Linked DNA regions of Homo sapiens. The protein of the gene in region 3 interacts with the protein of the main gene of each other region in a biochemical or structural test. Each region holds a gene or a part of one and is shown on either strand. Other genes may lie near its edges.

The links. The genes of interacting proteins can lie anywhere in the genome.
Region 1: the proteins of UBE2E3 (region 3) and KLHL42 form a complex in vitro, tested with the Homo sapiens proteins (one study listed by BioGRID).
Region 2: of the proteins of UBE2E3 (region 3) and RANGAP1, one has a biochemical effect on the other in vitro, tested with the Homo sapiens proteins (one study listed by BioGRID).

Annotation. Positions count from the first base shown.
Region 1 is NC_000012.12:27,776,113-27,783,267, forward strand, and holds the start of KLHL42 (kelch-like protein 42), read left to right. Parts: upstream 1-4,120; 5' UTR 4,121-4,218; coding exon 4,219-5,090; intron 5,091-7,155. UniProt on the Homo sapiens protein: Substrate-specific adapter of a BCR (BTB-CUL3-RBX1) E3 ubiquitin-protein ligase complex required for mitotic progression and cytokinesis. The BCR(KLHL42) E3 ubiquitin ligase complex mediates the ubiquitination and subsequent degradation of KATNA1.
Region 2 is NC_000022.11:41,248,153-41,255,187, reverse strand, and holds part of RANGAP1 (ran GTPase-activating protein 1), read left to right. Parts: intron 1-521; coding exon of another isoform or gene 522-603; exon of another isoform or gene 604-693; coding exon 694-880; intron 881-2,137; exon of another isoform or gene 2,138-2,196; coding exon 2,197-2,316; intron 2,317-4,078; coding exon 4,079-4,181; intron 4,182-5,370; coding exon 5,371-5,459; intron 5,460-5,736; coding exon 5,737-5,858; intron 5,859-7,035. UniProt on the Homo sapiens protein: GTPase activator for RAN. Converts cytoplasmic GTP-bound RAN to GDP-bound RAN, which is essential for RAN-mediated nuclear import and export. Mediates dissociation of cargo from nuclear export complexes containing XPO1, RAN and RANBP2 after nuclear export.
Region 3 is NC_000002.12:181,060,599-181,063,954, forward strand, and holds the end of UBE2E3 (ubiquitin-conjugating enzyme E2 E3), read left to right. Parts: intron 1-66; coding exon 67-214; intron 215-2,192; coding exon 2,193-2,290; 3' UTR 2,291-2,827; downstream 2,828-3,356. UniProt on the Homo sapiens protein: Accepts ubiquitin from the E1 complex and catalyzes its covalent attachment to other proteins. In vitro catalyzes 'Lys-11'- and 'Lys-48'-, as well as 'Lys-63'-linked polyubiquitination.

The DNA of each region.
Region 1 (7,155 bases), on a different chromosome or scaffold from region 3:
ATTTTTCAGTGATCCTAAAGAAAGATCTACACAAAAACTTCTAATGGCTCCTTGGTATTTCATTCTACCATACCAAAATTTACTCTGCACTTCAGCTTCCTCAGCTGTAAAATATAAAAACAGTACTGTAATCCATGTAAAGCACTTACAACAGTGCCTGGCACATGCTAAACACTCAATACATATTAGCTACTATTATTATACATTATGTTGTTTTCCAATTTTTTGTTATTAAAAGCAATACTGTGATAAACATCTTGTACTAAGATTTTTTTTTCTACTTGCTATTTCAAAAGGGATATTTTCCATAAGTTCTTTAAAAAATGACCTACTTCAGCTGGGTGTGGTGGCTCATACCTGTAATCCCAGCACTCTGGGAGGCTGAGGAGGGAGCATCACTTGCGCCCAGGAGTTCAAGACCAGCCTGGGCAACATGGTGAAACCCCGTCCCCACAGAAAATGTAAGAATTAACCGGGCATAGTGGCGCAGGCCTGTATTCTCAGCTACTTGGGAGGCTGAGGTGGGAGGAGCACTTGAACCTGGGAGGCCTCTGGGAGGAGCACTTGAACCTGGGAGGCTTCATTGAGCCATAATAGTGCCACCACACTCCAGCCTGAATGGCAGAGTGAGACCCTGTCTAAAAAAATAAAAAATAAAAAATAAAAATTACCTAACTCTATTTGACCATTACGCTTCTGTAAAACTGTTTTACAGATAGTACCACAAAACTGGTTTTTATTATTCAATGATCAGTCAATAACAGATCTATAAAATTATACCTCCAGTTATATAAAGCAATATTTTCAGGAAGACTAGGAATAATTTTAGGTCTTTTTAAAATAAAGGAGTTTATATTGCTCTGACTTTGCATTTCTAGCTTAACAGAAAACTTACTGCATAATTTATTAAAATGATTTGATCATTTAAGATGCTCCCAATCCTAAATAATGTTATTATCATATTGGGAGCCAAAAAAACTCACAAGATCAATGCCCAGTATTGTGAGACTAATACCCCAGACTCCCTGTCCAACCTCATCTTACCCTGATAATGTTACTGTGCTTGAATTGCCTTTCTAATGCACATCATTCTTTGAGCATGATTTTTTTGGTCTGTTTTAAAAAGGCAAGAAAATACCAGTCTGAGGCATATCTATGACGGCTGGGAAACAAAAGCATCCATTGGTGAAAGATTCAAGAGACAGAGGAGAGACTGAGAGCCTGTTCTTTGTGGCTGACCCACTGAATCTGGCATTGTTGCCGGTTGAGGCATAGAAAAATCGTAGGTCCAAGTCTCTTTGATACAGGGGACGCATCCCAGCAAAATTCCCCAGCCTGATGCTTAATACTGGATGTTACACTCTACCATCCCAAAGAAGCTGCTAAATGCTTGATCACTCACTCCACCTCCTGCTCCAAAGCTTATCGTGTCTCACTGCACCCTCATAGAGAATGGAAGTGTGAAGGGTTGATGTGAAAATGGAGTTTTATCAGTAACGATTTAAAGGCCAGGTGAAACAAGGTGAAGAGATGAATGTTTTTTATAGAATCCAAGAAAACAACTGAGTAAGTCATAGATCCATTTTTATTTCCTTCATTTTTTTCCAGGGAGGCCAGAATCTACTAGAACATTTTCTATGTCTTTTATTTTTTAGTTCCTTATTCCTAGCATTATTATAAAGAAAATAGGCCAGGCACAGTAGTGCTTTGAGAGACCAAGGCAGCAGGATCACTTGGGGTGGCAGGATCCCTTGGGGCCAGGAGTTTGAGGTCTGTCTTGGGCAAGGTAGCAAGACCCTATCTCTATGGAAAAAAAAAATGCATTTTTTTTTGCTGGGCATGGAGGCTCATGCCTGTAATCCCAGCACTTTGGGAGGCCGAGGTGGGTGGATCACGTGAGGTCGGGAGTTCCAGACCAGCCTGACCAACATGGTGAAACCCCGTCTCTACTAAAAATACAAAATTAGCCGGGTGTGGTGGCTCATGCCTGGAATCCCAGCTACTCCGGAGGCTGAGGCAGGAGAATCACTTGAACCCGGGAGGTGGAGGTTGCAGAAAGCTGAGATCGCAGCATTGCACTCCAGCCTGGGCAACAAGAGGGAAACTCTGTCTCAAAAAAAAAAAAAAATGCATTTTTTTTTCTAAAAAATAAAAAGATAAACCTCCTTTCCCAAGTAATAATAATAAACAAAGTAAAAGATGACAACAACACCTCTCTGTGAAGCAGATAAATTTCGTAGTAAGAACCACAAATGTAACCAAACTATGTTGAAAGGATCTCATGTTTCACCTTTGACTTTCTTTTAGTTCTCTGGTTTTTAACCCTTTCTCCTTCCTAAGGTAAAATGTTAGCATGGTAGGATGTATCTTCTTTAAATAGGGGAAATGTACTTATGAAGAAGATATTATTTAACAATCTGTCATTCAAGAAGAAAGCTGAAGCTTGTAATAATAAAAAAAAAAACCAAACACATATTCTCTCCAAGTTAAGGACTGTTTATCATAGGTGGTTCTCAAATCTTGGTTTGGGGTAAGTTTTCAAGGTTTTCTGTTTTTGTTTTGTAAGATAAGAGTGAACACACCCTCTGCTTCCTCCCAATCCTTCTCCCTTCTCCTACCCAAAGATAATCCAAACAATATATTTCTCCCCCCACCCCCTTCCTGGGATGAATTCATTAGCAAGACAAAAAGTCCTTCCTATTATTATTTGGGGTGGGCCTTCTAATTGCAATGTTCAGTGAGAGAACATAGGAAACAAGTGGTCTCTCTTTTCCGAGACGGCGTCTCGCTCTGTCGCCCAGGCTGGAGTGCAGTGGCGCGATCTCGGCTCACTGCAACCTCCGCCTCCCGGGTTCCAGCAATTCTCCTGCCTCAGCCTCCCGAGTAGCTGGGATCACAGGCGCGTGCCACCACGCCCGGCTAATTTTTGTATTTTTAGTAGAGACGGGGTTTCACCATGTTGGCCATGGTGCTCTCGAACTCCTGACCTCGTGATCTGCCCACCTGGGCTTCCCAAAGTCATGGGATTACAGGCGTGAGCCACCGCGCTCAGCCAAACCGCACGTGTGGTCTCTCTTAATAGTCCTCAGATGATGGGGGCAGGGTAGGTGGAGAAAGGGGGTGACAAGAAAAGCTACTTCTTGCAGACATTTATGAGCCAATTTTGTCAGATCTTTTGCGCCAGGATAACATTCCGTAATGGACTGGACTGAAGTAGAAAAGCAATGGCTCATAGAAAACATGGTTTAAAACCAGAAGCCACGTGATGTAACTTTATTTAGTCGGGCTGCGCTTTCATCTTTCTTTTAATAACTTAGGGAGAATAAGGGGCCCCAGTGGCAAATGCAAGCTCCCCTGCCTCCCAACCCGATTCCTCTGAGAACCTGCTGCCATCTGCCTGGACCTCCTGTAAGATGGCTCCTACGCGACCACGCTACCAGAGAATCAGCTCTACGTGCCACCAACATTGCCACCAACTGTCCATAGATCGCCTGCGTGCCTCAGCCCACTGACACTCGATGCCGGACTGGGCCAGAAGGACGACCCCATATTTGATGCCTTTTTGTCTCCCTGGACCAGAGACTCCATCCTTCCCTTTCCTCCCACGCTCATTTCTTTTTCTTTAGCCCGTGTAAAGCAGCGTGGGAGAGAAAACGAATTTCTTCTCCCTGGGGTACCCCGGAGCATCACTGCAGCCCCCAACAAGCGGCGGAGCCGGCGCGCCCCGGGCGGGCGGAGAGGCTGCGGGGACGCGCGCCCTCCGCCTCCCGCAGCTGCGCGTCCGCAGCCGAGGCGCCCGGGCCCGCAGCTTCCCGGGCCTCCCCGAGAGCCGGATCCAGCCGGCAGGTCAGGCCGGCGGCTGGGGTCCCGCGGGCGGAAGTGAGAAGGGCGGCGGGGGAGGAGGCTGCTGGCTGGGAGCTGGAATTCCCTTCCCGCCTGGCGCCGCCCGGGAGAGCCCGCGCGAGGACGCCCGCCGCGCTCCGCCGGCCCTTTTTTGGCGCTGAGGGAAAGGAGAAGGGCAGGGCCGCCGCCTCGCGGGAGCGGGCCCCGGGAGGAGGGGCCGCCGGAGAGGCCGGGCGAGCGCGGGCGGCCCTCACCTCGCCGCTCCTCCCGGGCCGCCATCCCTCGGCGCCCCGCCCGGAACCGGCGCGCGCGTAGGGGCTGGGAGGCCGGCGCGCAGATCTGGCGGTGAGCGCTGCCGCCCCGGGGCCCCCAGCCATGTCGGCCGAGGAGATGGTGCAGATCCGCCTGGAGGACCGCTGCTACCCGGTGAGCAAGAGGAAGCTCATCGAGCAGAGCGACTACTTCCGCGCCCTCTACCGCTCCGGCATGCGCGAGGCCCTGAGCCAGGAGGCCGGCGGCCCGGAGGTGCAGCAGCTGCGCGGCCTCAGCGCGCCGGGCCTGCGGCTGGTGCTGGACTTCATCAACGCCGGCGGGGCCCGCGAAGGCTGGCTCCTGGGCCCGCGCGGGGAAAAGGGCGGCGGGGTGGACGAGGACGAGGAGATGGATGAGGTGAGCCTGCTGTCCGAGCTGGTGGAGGCGGCCTCCTTCCTGCAGGTCACGTCCCTGCTGCAGCTGCTGCTGTCCCAGGTGCGGCTCAATAACTGCCTGGAGATGTACCGCCTGGCGCAGGTGTACGGGCTGCCCGACCTGCAGGAGGCCTGCCTGCGCTTCATGGTCGTCCACTTCCACGAGGTGCTGTGCAAGCCCCAGTTCCACCTCCTGGGGTCTCCTCCCCAAGCTCCAGGGGATGTCAGCCTGAAGCAGAGGCTGAGGGAGGCCCGGATGACTGGGACTCCTGTCCTCGTGGCCCTCGGGGACTTCCTGGGGGGACCCCTGGCCCCTCACCCCTACCAGGGGGAGCCCCCGTCCATGCTCAGGTACGAGGAGATGACTGAGCGTTGGTTCCCGCTGGCCAACAACCTTCCTCCCGACCTGGTCAATGTCAGGGGCTATGGGTCTGCCATCCTGGACAACTACCTCTTCATAGTGGGCGGGTACAGGATCACTAGCCAGGAGATCTCCGCTGCGCATTCCTACAACCCCAGCACCAACGAGTGGCTCCAGGTGGCCTCCATGAACCAGAAGAGGTAAGCACCCCGGCAGAGTGCTGCTGCCTTCTCATTCATTCACTTGTTCATTAGTTCATTACCCCAGTGTTTACTGAGCCAGTAAATAGGGGAGGGTGTGCTGTGGTGGAAATGACATCTTCAGGAATGTTGTTGGCCTTGGCGCTGGCAAAATTCCCAATGAACTAAGAAATTGCGAAGAGGACGTCCCCAGTGAGGTCAAGAAGTGGAGTGGTTTTTTGGCAGGTATTGTGCCTTTAGGTGAAACTGCTTTCTTTGCCTCTGTTCTTGTGAAAAAAGATGTTGTGGTTTCCTACAAGAATACTTTAAAAGAAAATTGCCCCTTAATTTTTAAAAAATTTGTCTTAGTTTTTAGGATTTGATCCTGATGATAATGATACACTGGACAGTAACCTGTAACACTGACTTTGGGGGATTTTTTTCTGATGTCAGTGACTGTGACAACAGAGTCTTCCACACTGTGATACCCATCATGATCAAGAGATAATCACTGGAAATGTATTAACGTTTGCAATAGGGGTTGCTTTTCTTATTTTTTATCCTCTCTTTTGCTTCCTTCCCTGGACAGCCATCGTCATGACCCACAGCTTGAGCCTGGAAGTGTTCAACTACAGAATTGGAATATTTTCATTTACGCAACCTTCTCCCCCTCCCATCCTGCAAATCTCTCCTGCCTCCAACAAGGGTGACTTGAAGAAAGGAAGAGGAGGAGCTTGAGGAGTGGGATGAGAGGGGAGAAGGGAAAGGAACCAGGGAAGGAATATCAAAACAAGAGCAAAGAGCATATACAGGAAGAGATGGTAGGAAATAAAGATGGTAGCGCCTAGGAGGCCTCAGCGTCATTCAGAAGCAGGGAAAAGAATCAATGTAACTCAAGAAAGGATGAAAATACCCTTTCTTCCCATCCACGTGTTTCCATCTCAATCCTCACAGGGTCCTGGTCCTGAAGTGTGGAGCAAGGAGTTGGGGAGCTCACAGCTGGGCAAAGAAAGTCTTAACAGTAACAGAGAATCCTTTATATATCTGTTTATTTGACTCGAGGGTCCTCCTCGGCCAGGGATTATTTGGGGGAAATAACTGGCTTTATTTCTCCTATAATATGAAATTCATTTTGAAAAGTATGCTTTTTCCCCTGATAATACATAGTTACAGAAAACTGGAAAATGGAAAAGAATGAAGAAGCAAAAAGATGATTATTCCTACCCGCTCTTCCTAGAGGCAGTAACCAGGTTGGCATATTTCCTGCCAGCCCATTTTTAATGCATTATTTACACCATTGAGATGATACCATATTTAAAATTTGGTATCAGAAGTGTTATTTTAAAACAAATTCTATGCACTGTAATTGAAACAACAAAGGAACATTGTGTGGCCATGGGTGGTGGTCTGATTAGGGGTGGGCGGCCCTGAGTTCTCTCACTCCTCTTGCATTCCTCTAGCTACACATCATTTGGTGCTCACCAGGCCATCCTTAGTGCCACAGTTCCTCACACTTCTTTCTTCCCTTCATACATCCTTGGTAGTCTTTGTCTTTTTTTCTAGGAAGGCCCTTTTCATCCCCTTAAAAAAAAAAAAAGCATTCAAGTAATGCATGAATGCATGATTCTTAGAAAAACTGCAAATTACACACAAAACTGTGGAGTAAAAAGAGTAAATGTCTGCCCTCAGGGTACAGAAAAAAAGTGTCAGTGTATCAACAGACTTTTGTTACCTTTAGATATTATAAATGTATAAACATTTATACTGTAAATTATATGTATACTTGTATAAATACAGTTAACCCTTAAACAATGTGGGGGCCAGGGACACCAAACCCTGCACAGTCAAAAATCCCCATATAACTTTTGACTCTCCCAAAAACTTAACTACTGAATAGCCTACTGTTTACCAGATGCCTTACCAATAACATAATCAATTAATACATTTTGTATATGTAGTATATACTTTATTCTAACAATAAAGTATGCTATAGAAAAGAAAATGTTATTAATAAACTAAGGAAGAGAAAATTAAGCGGAAGTGGATCATCCTTATCATCTTGACGCTGAGTAGGCTGAGGAGGAAA
Region 2 (7,035 bases), on a different chromosome or scaffold from region 3:
CTCTTCTTCCTCCCCCACACCTGTAGCTTCCTGAGGTCATGTGGATGTGGGCGCCCCTGCCCTGGCATCTCAACCTGGGCAGTGTTCCTGCCAAGCCCTGGGCTCTAGGTGTGACAAAGCTGTCTTCGTTTTCTGTCTCTCCATGAAACCTGGGGCTCCTTGAGGACAGGGACAAGATCTGATTTTTTTTTGTTTTTTTTTTTTGTTTTTTTGTGGGGGATGGAGTCTCGCTCTGTTGCCCAGGCTAGAGTGCAGTGGCACAATTTCGGCTCACTGCCAGCTCCGCCTCCAGGGTTCACGCCATTCTCCTGCCTCAGCCTCCTGAGTAGCTGGGACCACAGGCGCCCGCCACCACACCCGGCTAATTTTTTGTATTTTTAGTAGAGACGGGGTTTCACCACGTTAGCCAGGATGGTCTCGATCTCCTGACCTCATGATCCACCCACCTCGGCCTCCCAAAGTGCTGGGATTACAGGCATGAGCCACCGCGCCGGGCCGATCTTATTTTTTTGTGTCCACAGCATGGATTTCCCTGGTGATCCACCTGCCCCTGCCCTGGGAGCAGGTGCTCCCACCCCACCAGGCTCTCTCCCTCCTGGCTGAGGTGAGGTCTCTGGGCTCATGGAGCCAGGCCTTAGAGCCAACCTGGGCTGCTGGGTAGAGAGGATCTGCTTCAGCCAGCTCTTTCTGCAGTGATGACGAGGACGAGGAGGAGGAGGAGGAAGGAGAAGAGGAAGAAGAGGAAGCAGAAGAAGAGGAGGAGGAAGATGAGGAAGAGGAGGAAGAAGAGGAGGAGGAGGAGGAAGAAGAGCCTCAGCAGCGAGGGCAGGGAGAGAAGTCAGCCACGCCCTCACGGAAGATTCTGGACCCTAACACTGGGGTGAGTTTCTATCATCTGCCACAATCAGAGCCCTGGTCCTGAGAACGTGAAATCCCGAGGCACTTTCACAATGGGGTAGGGGGTGTCTCCTTAAGCACAGTAGCCACAAACATTTTTTTTTGATTGCATGATATTGAGTAAAAAAAGGAAAATGGTCCCAGTGTAATGATAGTTACCTATATTTCTTTTTTTTTTTTTTGAGATGGAGTCTCACTCTTGTCACCCAGGCTGGAGTGCAGTGGTGTGATCTCGGCTCACTGCAACCTCTGCCTCCCGGGTTCAAGTGATTCTTATGCCTCAGCCTCCCAAACAGCTGGGATTACAGATGCTTGCCACCACGCCTGGCTAATTTTTGTATCTTTAGTAGAGCCGGGGTTTCGCCATATTGGCCAGGCTGGTCTTGAACTTCTGACCTCAGGTGATCCACCCTCCTCGACCTCCCAAAGTGCTGGGATTACAGGCATTGAGCCACCGGGCCCAGCCATAGTTACCTATATTTCTATTTACCCCAATATAAATGTCTATTTACAGGTAGCAGTGCTGCTGCATTATGTATATTATAAGATATGCATAAGGGTTTCTGAAAGAATAAACAAATAAGCATAAATAGAAATTCTGATTTTTTTTTTCCCCACCCACCAGAGGATTGTCTTGGTGACCCTTAGGAACCACTCCCCCATTCCTGGGATGGTGGCTGGGCCATGACCTGGCTTGGGCACTTGGTGTCCCTTGTCTGGCCCGGGGCTGCATCAGGGCTGCCACACCTCCAGTTCATTCATTTGCATTCCCTGTCAGGTTCCTAAGTAAAGCTCCTGGAGAACTTGGCTCTGGACAAGGACTCCCCATGCTTACGCTGAATTGGGCTGCTTCTCTGGTTTATGGAATCAATTAAACAAATGGCTAGGTTCGCCTCAATTCAGTTTTTCCTCTGGGCACCTCTGGTGCTAGCAGGGCTTACCCAGGCTGGACTGTAGTTCTACGGGGACCCACTTTAGCCCCCATGTGCCTCCGTAGTCATTTCTGGGGCACTGCATGTCATGACGAGGATCCACTTGGCCGTAGCAGGTTTTTTGAGTCCCAGGGAGGTAGCTTCCCCCTCACCCCAAAGGCTCCTGGACCAAGAGCCATCCAGGGCCAGCATCTCTGGGTGATATTGATAGATGGGAAATGCAGCTGAGTGGGAGGAAGAATTCTAGACTTTGAGCCTAGATGGGCTGGAGTGAAGGGTGGATGTGCTGGGTGTGGGGATGGGCACAGCTGTGTCGGGGAGTCTGGGGTCCGGAATTCTCCAGAGCCTCTGTGCCCCTACTTCCCAGGAGCCAGCTCCCGTGCTGTCCTCCCCACCTCCTGCAGACGTCTCCACCTTCCTGGCTTTTCCCTCTCCAGAGAAGCTGCTGCGCCTAGGGCCCAAGAGCTCCGTGCTGATAGCCCAGCAGGTAATAACCACCCCTCGACCCCCACGCTGTACGTGCTGTGGCTTCTGGAGCTGTTAGAGAAAAGGGACGAACAGCTCAGAGACCTGGGGGTGCGACGCTGTCAGCTGGGGGCAGGGAGGCTTGGCCTGCCACTGTTACAACACGCGCAAATGTCCAGGGTATTTATAAGCCTCCAGGGGTTGCAAATGTTCCCTCCCCACTCAGCCTACAGAAAGTACAGCCCGCCAGTTCCCATGCTGACTGGGGTTAGGGAATTTCCTTAAGAGCCTTGCATGTGCCCACCCCCTCCTTGGCTTCTCTCTGCGTGTTCCGTCAGCCCAGCTGCTTCGAGAACAACTCTGTTGCCCAGGGCTCCTTTGGAAGTGACGTGCCTATTGCAGGATGGGTGCCCTCACTCCAGCCTCACTTGTTGGTTGGCTCATTCATTCATTCATAGATGATCTTCGGGGCATCCATTTTCTGCCAGGCACTGCATTTGGGCATGATTTTATTTAACCCTCTTGGCAACATGAAATGTAGACTCTGCTGCCCTTACTTTATTTTATTATTTATTTATTTATTTATTTTTTTGAGATGGAGTCTCACTCTGTCGCCCAGGCTGGAGTGCAGTGGCACGATCTCGGCTCACTGCAGACTCTGCCTCCTGGGTTCAAGCAATTCTCCTGCCTCAGCCTCCCGCGCCCAGCTAATTTTTGTATTTTTTAGTAGAGACGAGGTTTCACCACGTTGGCCAGGCTGGTCTCAAACTCCTGACCTCATGATCCACCCACCTCGGCCTCCCAAAGTGCTAGGGTTACAGGCATGAGCCACCGTGCCCGGCCAGCCCTTATTTTGTAGATAAGAAAGCGGAGGCTCGGAGGTTACAGAGAAATAAAATGGGCCCACTCTCAGAGTTGGCTTAACATTTCGGCCAATTGCTTTGTTAGGTTTTGCCTGTATTCTTTGTTTCTTTTAACATGATAAATCAGATGTTGTAAGCCTTTCTGTGGCCTATCACTTTGGTGTAGCACCATTCATCACTTTCTTGTGCCCATAAAACTCTTCTCAGGATTTTTATTGCAATGTGTGGATGTAGCACTTAAAAGCCAGGCACTGTTTCTGACGTTTTTTCCACTTTTCCCTGTTGTGAGGTTGAGGTAAACGTTTCTGCATGTGAGTATTGTCTACATGCTAGATTATTTCTTCAAGTTCAATTACAAGATGGGGACCACTGGATCCCTGAAATGATTTTTTTTTTTTTTTTTCTGAGACAATGTTTTGCTTTGTGACTCCGGCTGGAGTGCAGTGGTGCAATCATGGCTCAGTGCAACCTCGACCTCCTGGGCTCAAGCAGTCCTCCTGCCTCAGCCTCCCAAGTAGCTGAGACTATAGGCACACACCACCAACCTTGGCTAATTTTTTTCCTTTTTGTTGACATGGGGTCTTGCTATGTTGCCTAGGCTGGTCTCAGACTTTTCGCCTCAAGCCATCCTCCCACCTCAGCCTCCCAAAGTGCTGGGGTTACAGGCATGAGCCGCCACACCCGGCTGGGATGATTTTTCATCCTTGTTCATTCACTCATTCATTCCCTCTCTATGCTGCATATGTGCTTGCTGCAGGCCAAATCCAAGCCAGACTCTGAAGGGACAGCATGGGGTAAGGCAGGACCTGTTCTTGCCCGCCAGGGGCCTTTGTACTGCCCAGGCCTCTCCTAGCTAGCGTCAGAGCCCAGGTACCTCTCCACCACGTGCCACAGGCCAACCATTGTCTCTTTTGTCCTCAGACTGACACGTCTGACCCCGAGAAGGTGGTCTCTGCCTTCCTAAAGGTGTCATCTGTGTTCAAGGACGAAGCTACTGTGAGGATGGCAGTGCAGGATGCAGTAGGTAATGTGGGCTGGGTGAGACCTGGGTGCCCTCTGTCCCTTGATGCTCGTGGGCCCCAGGTATCCTTCGTGGTTGCCGTAACTCGTCAGCCCCAGCGCTCTCATGGGAACTGCTCTTTGGCCACCTGAGTTTTTCCTCCGTCAGGGTCCTGCCGTGGAGCCAGCTGGCTGCTCTTCTCCCTGTTTTTCACCACTGAGAAACTGAGGCCTTTCCCAAATCCACACAGCCATGTACAGTTAGAACCCATAGCCCGCTCTAGGAAGTCCAGATAGTCACATCTGCAAGCCCAATGGACGCAGGTCTATCGGGAGGAGGGATGGTGAGAGCCAAGCCCTTGTCCACACCTTGGAGCTTCTGTGCTCACGTCCACTCTACCTGGAGGTTCCTTGCACAGAGGACACCTTTCCCCATAACATTATGGGGGCTTCCTTGGAGCACCAGCCCATATCCCTCCAGCCCTATCACAACCCTCTCCCCACCCTGTCTGTTTCCTCCATTCCAGCACCTGTCACCTTCCACCCTGTTTCCATGTGCTTGACTGAGCCTCCACATCTAACGAAACCTGAGCCAGTTCCGGTTAGGCAGAGGGGAGGAAGGGCCCTGAGGCGAGGGGGACGGTTCCTGGAAAAGATAGAAAGGGGTGGAAGGACATGTGGTGCCTCTTCCCGGCGTGGCGTCGAAGCGGGGAGGGCGGCTCAGTGGGAAATGAGGCTCGGAAGGAGGTGGGGGCCAGACACAAGCCTGCTCCCTGAGGGCCCGCCTGTGGGCATTTTTGGGAACAAGTTGCCCTAGTTCTGTTTCCCAGGAAGCCTAGCACAGTCCCTGCACATCCCCTCACCCTGCCAAAATAACCTGAATCCTCCCCAGTGGTAGCCTGCCTCAGGAAATCTCCATTCCCACGGTGTGAGGTGGGCACAGTGGGTGTCATCCCCATGCCCATTTTATACCTGAGGCCAGGATGGGCAAGGGCCAGAGTGTCACAGCTGGCAGATGGACTGAGCCCATCCCCTGATGCCAACTGCCACTCCCTCTGGTTCCTGTGTCTCTGCCGTCCCTCTCGTGTTCGCCTCTTCGTCAGGGCGAGGAGGCAGGCGAGCCTGTGTCTGCGCGGTGTTGGGGGAACCCTGGGTGCCTTGGCCCAGCCCTCTGCCATAGCCAGCAGCCTGCCCCTGCTGCTTCTGCCCTACAGATGCCCTGATGCAGAAGGCTTTCAACTCCTCGTCCTTCAACTCCAACACCTTCCTCACCAGGCTGCTCGTGCACATGGGTCTGCTCAAGGTGAGGCCGGAAGGAACAGCAGGCCCGGGAGGGAGGTGGGTGGGGTCTGCACAGAAGCTGCCCCAGCCATGCCCGCCAACCTCCCTCACCTCGAGTCCTGAGCCGGCTCGCCCACGGGGCCCCGAGGCCTGGGTCTGCCCCAGCAGCCTTGGTCTTCACGATGAGATTCCGGCTAGACTCAGTTGTGGGCACTATCAGCAGAGTCTGGATGGTGGAGTCCAGGGGCCCCCCCAGGTGACTTTGAAGCTCACCCCGCTTTTCGCTGTGTTCCTCTCAGAGTGAAGACAAGGTCAAGGCCATTGCCAACCTGTACGGCCCCCTGATGGCGCTGAACCACATGGTGCAGCAGGACTATTTCCCCAAGGCCCTTGCACCCCTGCTGCTGGCGTTCGTGACCAAGTGAGTGTGGCCTTGTCCTTCTGCCGGTGCCTGCCCTCTCGGGCTTCTCTGGCCAGGTCTGAAGGCGCCCGGTTCCGGGAGGCCCAGCCCCAGCCCAGCCAGCCTGCTGGCCCCACTCAGGTGCATGAGAGGCCCTCATGCCTCCTGGGCTCTCAGCATCTGCATTGGAGTCTCACCACCCTTGGGAGGCCCACTCCCCTCTGCCCAGCTGAGGACAGTGGGGCTCAGGGACAGTGAGAGAGGAGACATGCGGCGCCCCCATTGTGCAGATGAGGAGCACTGGGTTGGTTAAGGAGTTTCCCTTGGTCACACGCTAGCAAGAGGCTGGGCCAGTGTCCAGACCCATGTCTGCTGAGCGAGGTGCTGCGGTTGGTGACATCTCCGGAGTGGCTTTTTGTCCACATTCACAGCAGCGCAGGCCAAAGGGGCCTGGTCACACCAGGCTCTGCAGCCCCGGGCCCTCTCCTGGGGACACACATTGCCACGGGAGCTGCCAAATGCCCAGCAATGTGTGAACCTTGGCCTTGTTCTGGAGGGTCCTGGGGTGTCCCGGGGCATTGATGGGGTGATGGGCACAGTCAAGTAAGAGAGGCAAGGCCCCACCAGGGAGGGGTCGGGAGGCTTGCCCTCTGAAGGCCCTGTGTGGCCCCTGGCCAACCTGTGGCCTTCATCAGGCCTCAGTCTCCCCATTTGTCCAACCGGGGGGTTAGGTGAGATTGTCTCCAAGCGCCCTGACCAGCCACACTTCCAGTCAGTCGGCGCCATCCGGGGACATGGGGCAGGCAGAGGAGCAAGGAAGTCCCTTTGCTGGGGGAGCCCAGAGCCCACCAGCTGAGGCAGGATACTTGGTGCATGTGGGGAGGCGGGGCTGGCGGAGCGTGAGCGGCCCCCGCTGGCCTCCAGCACCCAGCTGGTGCCGCGGCAGCCCTGTCCACTCCAGTGTCTGCATGGCGCCGCCTCCTTAGCCAGGCCTTACCTTCTGGCCGCATTTCCCCCACACCAGACCACCCCTTGGGCTGCAGCTGGACTGGCCTTGGTGAATGGCAGATCTCACTGTTCCCCTCCTCTGCCAGGTGCTAGGTAGAGCCTCACTGTGAATCTCATGGCTGGCCACAGCCTCACCCCGACCCCACCCCACCCCACCCCAGCACAGTGTGCTCTCCCTGAGCCCCTTTCC
Region 3 (3,356 bases):
TTTTTAGTGTTTTAATTGGTAATACAGCATTCATTTTCCTTCTGTTTTTAATGTGACTGTGCTTAGGTTACTTTCCGCACCAGAATCTATCACTGCAACATCAACAGTCAGGGAGTCATCTGTCTGGACATCCTTAAAGACAACTGGAGTCCCGCTTTGACTATTTCAAAGGTTTTGCTGTCTATTTGTTCCCTTTTGACAGACTGCAACCCTGGTAAGCAAATCTTTATTAACATGTACAATAAGACTACAAAAACGAGTGCTTTTTTTTTTTTTTTTTTTTTTTTTTTAGTTAGCTTTAAATGTAGATTGAGAGGTAAATGTTATTCATAGAAAGATCCCCATAAAACAGTTTGTGAGGAAATTACCAATGCCATTTGAAGTAGACTAGGCCAAAAGTTTCTCAATACCTTCATTTAATTTGTTAATGGCATACCACTCTATAATTATTTTGTCACCATCATTAATGGAATCTCTACTTTTAAAAGTATTTAGGTGCACAGACCACTTCTTTTTTTTTTTTTTTTTTTTTTTTGAGACGGAGTCTCGCTCTGTCGCCCAGGCCGGACTGCGGACTGCAGTGGCGCAATCTCGGCTCACTGCAAGCTCCGCTTCCCGGGTTCACGCCATTCTCCTGCCTCAGCCTCCCGAGTAGCTGGGACTACAGGCGCCCGCCACCGCGCCCGGCTAATTTTTTTGTATTTTTAGTAGAGACGGGGTTTCACCTTGTTAGCCAGGATGGTCTCGATCTCTTGACCTCATGATCCACCCGCCTCGGCCTCCCAAAGTGCTGGGATTACAGGCGTGAGCCACCGCGCCCGGCCGACCACTTCTAACAAGAGTAAAGCAATGTGTCTGAAACCAGTGCCTCCTTTTCCTGCTCCTTCCATGCTGCTGTATGCTTTTAGGCAACTACTTTAATAATAGAAGGCTTCTTGTTCTCCCTTCCTTTTTTAATTAATTAGTTATATAAAGTGTAGTAGTAATGGATATTAAAATGATAGCCAATGAGAATTGAACTAGATTATGATTATATAACCTCAGATAAAATCATTTGTGTATAATTCATAACTTTAAAAAATGCCTGCCACATGTGAACTTCAGAAACTTGGGTAGCTGACTTGATAAAGTGATGTTTAGACCTGAAATTTCACACATTTTGTTTCGTTATGTGACCTTTTTTTTTTTTTTAAGTTGACTTACTTCTAAATATTTGATAAGTCACTAAAGACTGTTACTGTTGTTACCTTATGCTCGGCAGAGATACATATGCAATAGATAGTGACAGATGGATATTCATTGTGGTATCCTTTATTAGAGTATTGGAAACAACCTCAATGCCCATTAATAGATGTAACGTTTAAAAAGAATGTGACAACTCTATATGAACTAATAGGGAAATATCTTCAAGATATATTAAGTATAAAAGGCACTGGAAAAAAATACATATACACAACATAATATTCTAAATGCTTGTCAGTGCATGTAAGAACTCTGGGAAGTAATGTTGTAAATGGGTAACAATTGTTTGCCAGGGAAAGAAACTTCTGAGCAGTTGGAGTCAGGAAGGAAGATAGTTTTTTTTTACTGGCTATGGTTTGGTACAATTCAAATATTGTACCATATGTACATATTTTTTTGTTTTTAAACATCAAAATAAAAATTTATATCAGGTTCACTCTCTAGTTCAGAATTCTACTTAAAACAAAATGGCAAGTAAGTTTTCAAGTGTAAATATTGATAGTGATTAGAGTCATATCAGGCACAGAATGAAGGAAGCATTTTATTTGAAATAGCATGGTATTGTAAGACTGGGGTTTTATTTTAAAATTAACCATTTTTGAACTATTCATAAGCAGAAATATAACCACCTAGTATACTTCCATTTTGAATGAAAGGCCAAAATTACAAAATAGTTTTTGTATATTAAAGACATATCTTTTATAAAAGTCAAATCTAACTTTTTATATATAGCTCAAAATTCATTTTTTTTTTTATGAAGGGGACTTTCCTAACTGGAATATTAAAATATACATATGATCATGTTACTTTAAACTTTTTCTTTTGAAAATTTAGCTATTATATATGAAGATACTGCTGAAAAATAAGCATTTCATTTTAATAGAATATTAGAACTATACCTTGAAGAAGATACCACAAAATAGCTTTTAATGTTCTTTCTGCTTTTCCAGCGGATCCTCTGGTTGGAAGCATAGCCACTCAGTATTTGACCAACAGAGCAGAACACGACAGGATAGCCAGACAGTGGACCAAGAGATACGCAACATAATTCACATAATTTGTATGCAGTGTGAAGGAGCAGAAGGCATCTTCTCACTGTGCTGCAAATCTTTATAGCCTTTACAATACGGACTTCTGTGTATATGTTATACTGATTCTACTCTGCTTTTATCCTTTGGAGCCTGGGAGACTCCCCAAAAAGGTAAATGCTATCAAGAGTAGAACTTTGTAGCTGTAGATTAGTTATGTTTAAAACGCCTACTTGCAAGTCTTGCTTCTTTGGGATATCAAAATGTATTTTGTGATGTACTAAGGATACTGGTCCTGAAGTCTACCAAATATTATAGTGCATTTTAGCCTAATTCATTATCTGTATGAAGTTATAAAAGTAGCTGTAGATGGCTAGGAATTATGTCATTTGTATTAAACCCAGATCTATTTCTGAGTATGTGGTTCATGCTGTTGTGAAAAATGTTTTACCTTTTACCTTTGTCAGTTTGTAATGAGAGGATTTCCTTTTACCCTTTGTAGCTCAGAGAGCACCTGATGTATCATCTCAAACACAATAAACATGCTCCTGAAGGCATAGTTTCCTGTCGTAATATTTTAAGTCAGTCTTGTTAGAAAGTGTGTCTGAGATGATTGTTGATGAAGTAAAAATGTGGCTATGAAGATTACTAAAGACTAGCACAAATAAACCCATTCTTAAATTGAAAACATTTAAAATCCTATTAAATGCATAGAGTTTTTTTCCTTTGTTATTGAAAGAATGACCTTAAATAATCAAAAGTGGATTTTGACCCATTGGTCTCAAACACATAAAGTTGTACTTCGGTAATATGATGTTTAAGCCAAAAAGAATATGAAATCCTGGCTCGCTCACTCAGGAATCTGGTAATGTCTTATGGAACATGTTGCTTCCAAATTGATGATTTTTGTTCAGCACTGGGCAATATTGTCAGATGGTAACTGTGATGTGGTAGCTAGTCTGTGATGCACTTTTTACTTCTAATCCTGGTCTTGAATGTTCATGTTGTGTATTACCATTCTTACTATGGCAAGTGGCCAGCAAATACAGCCAGAGGCAGAGATGAACACAGAAATCTTTGTCTGCC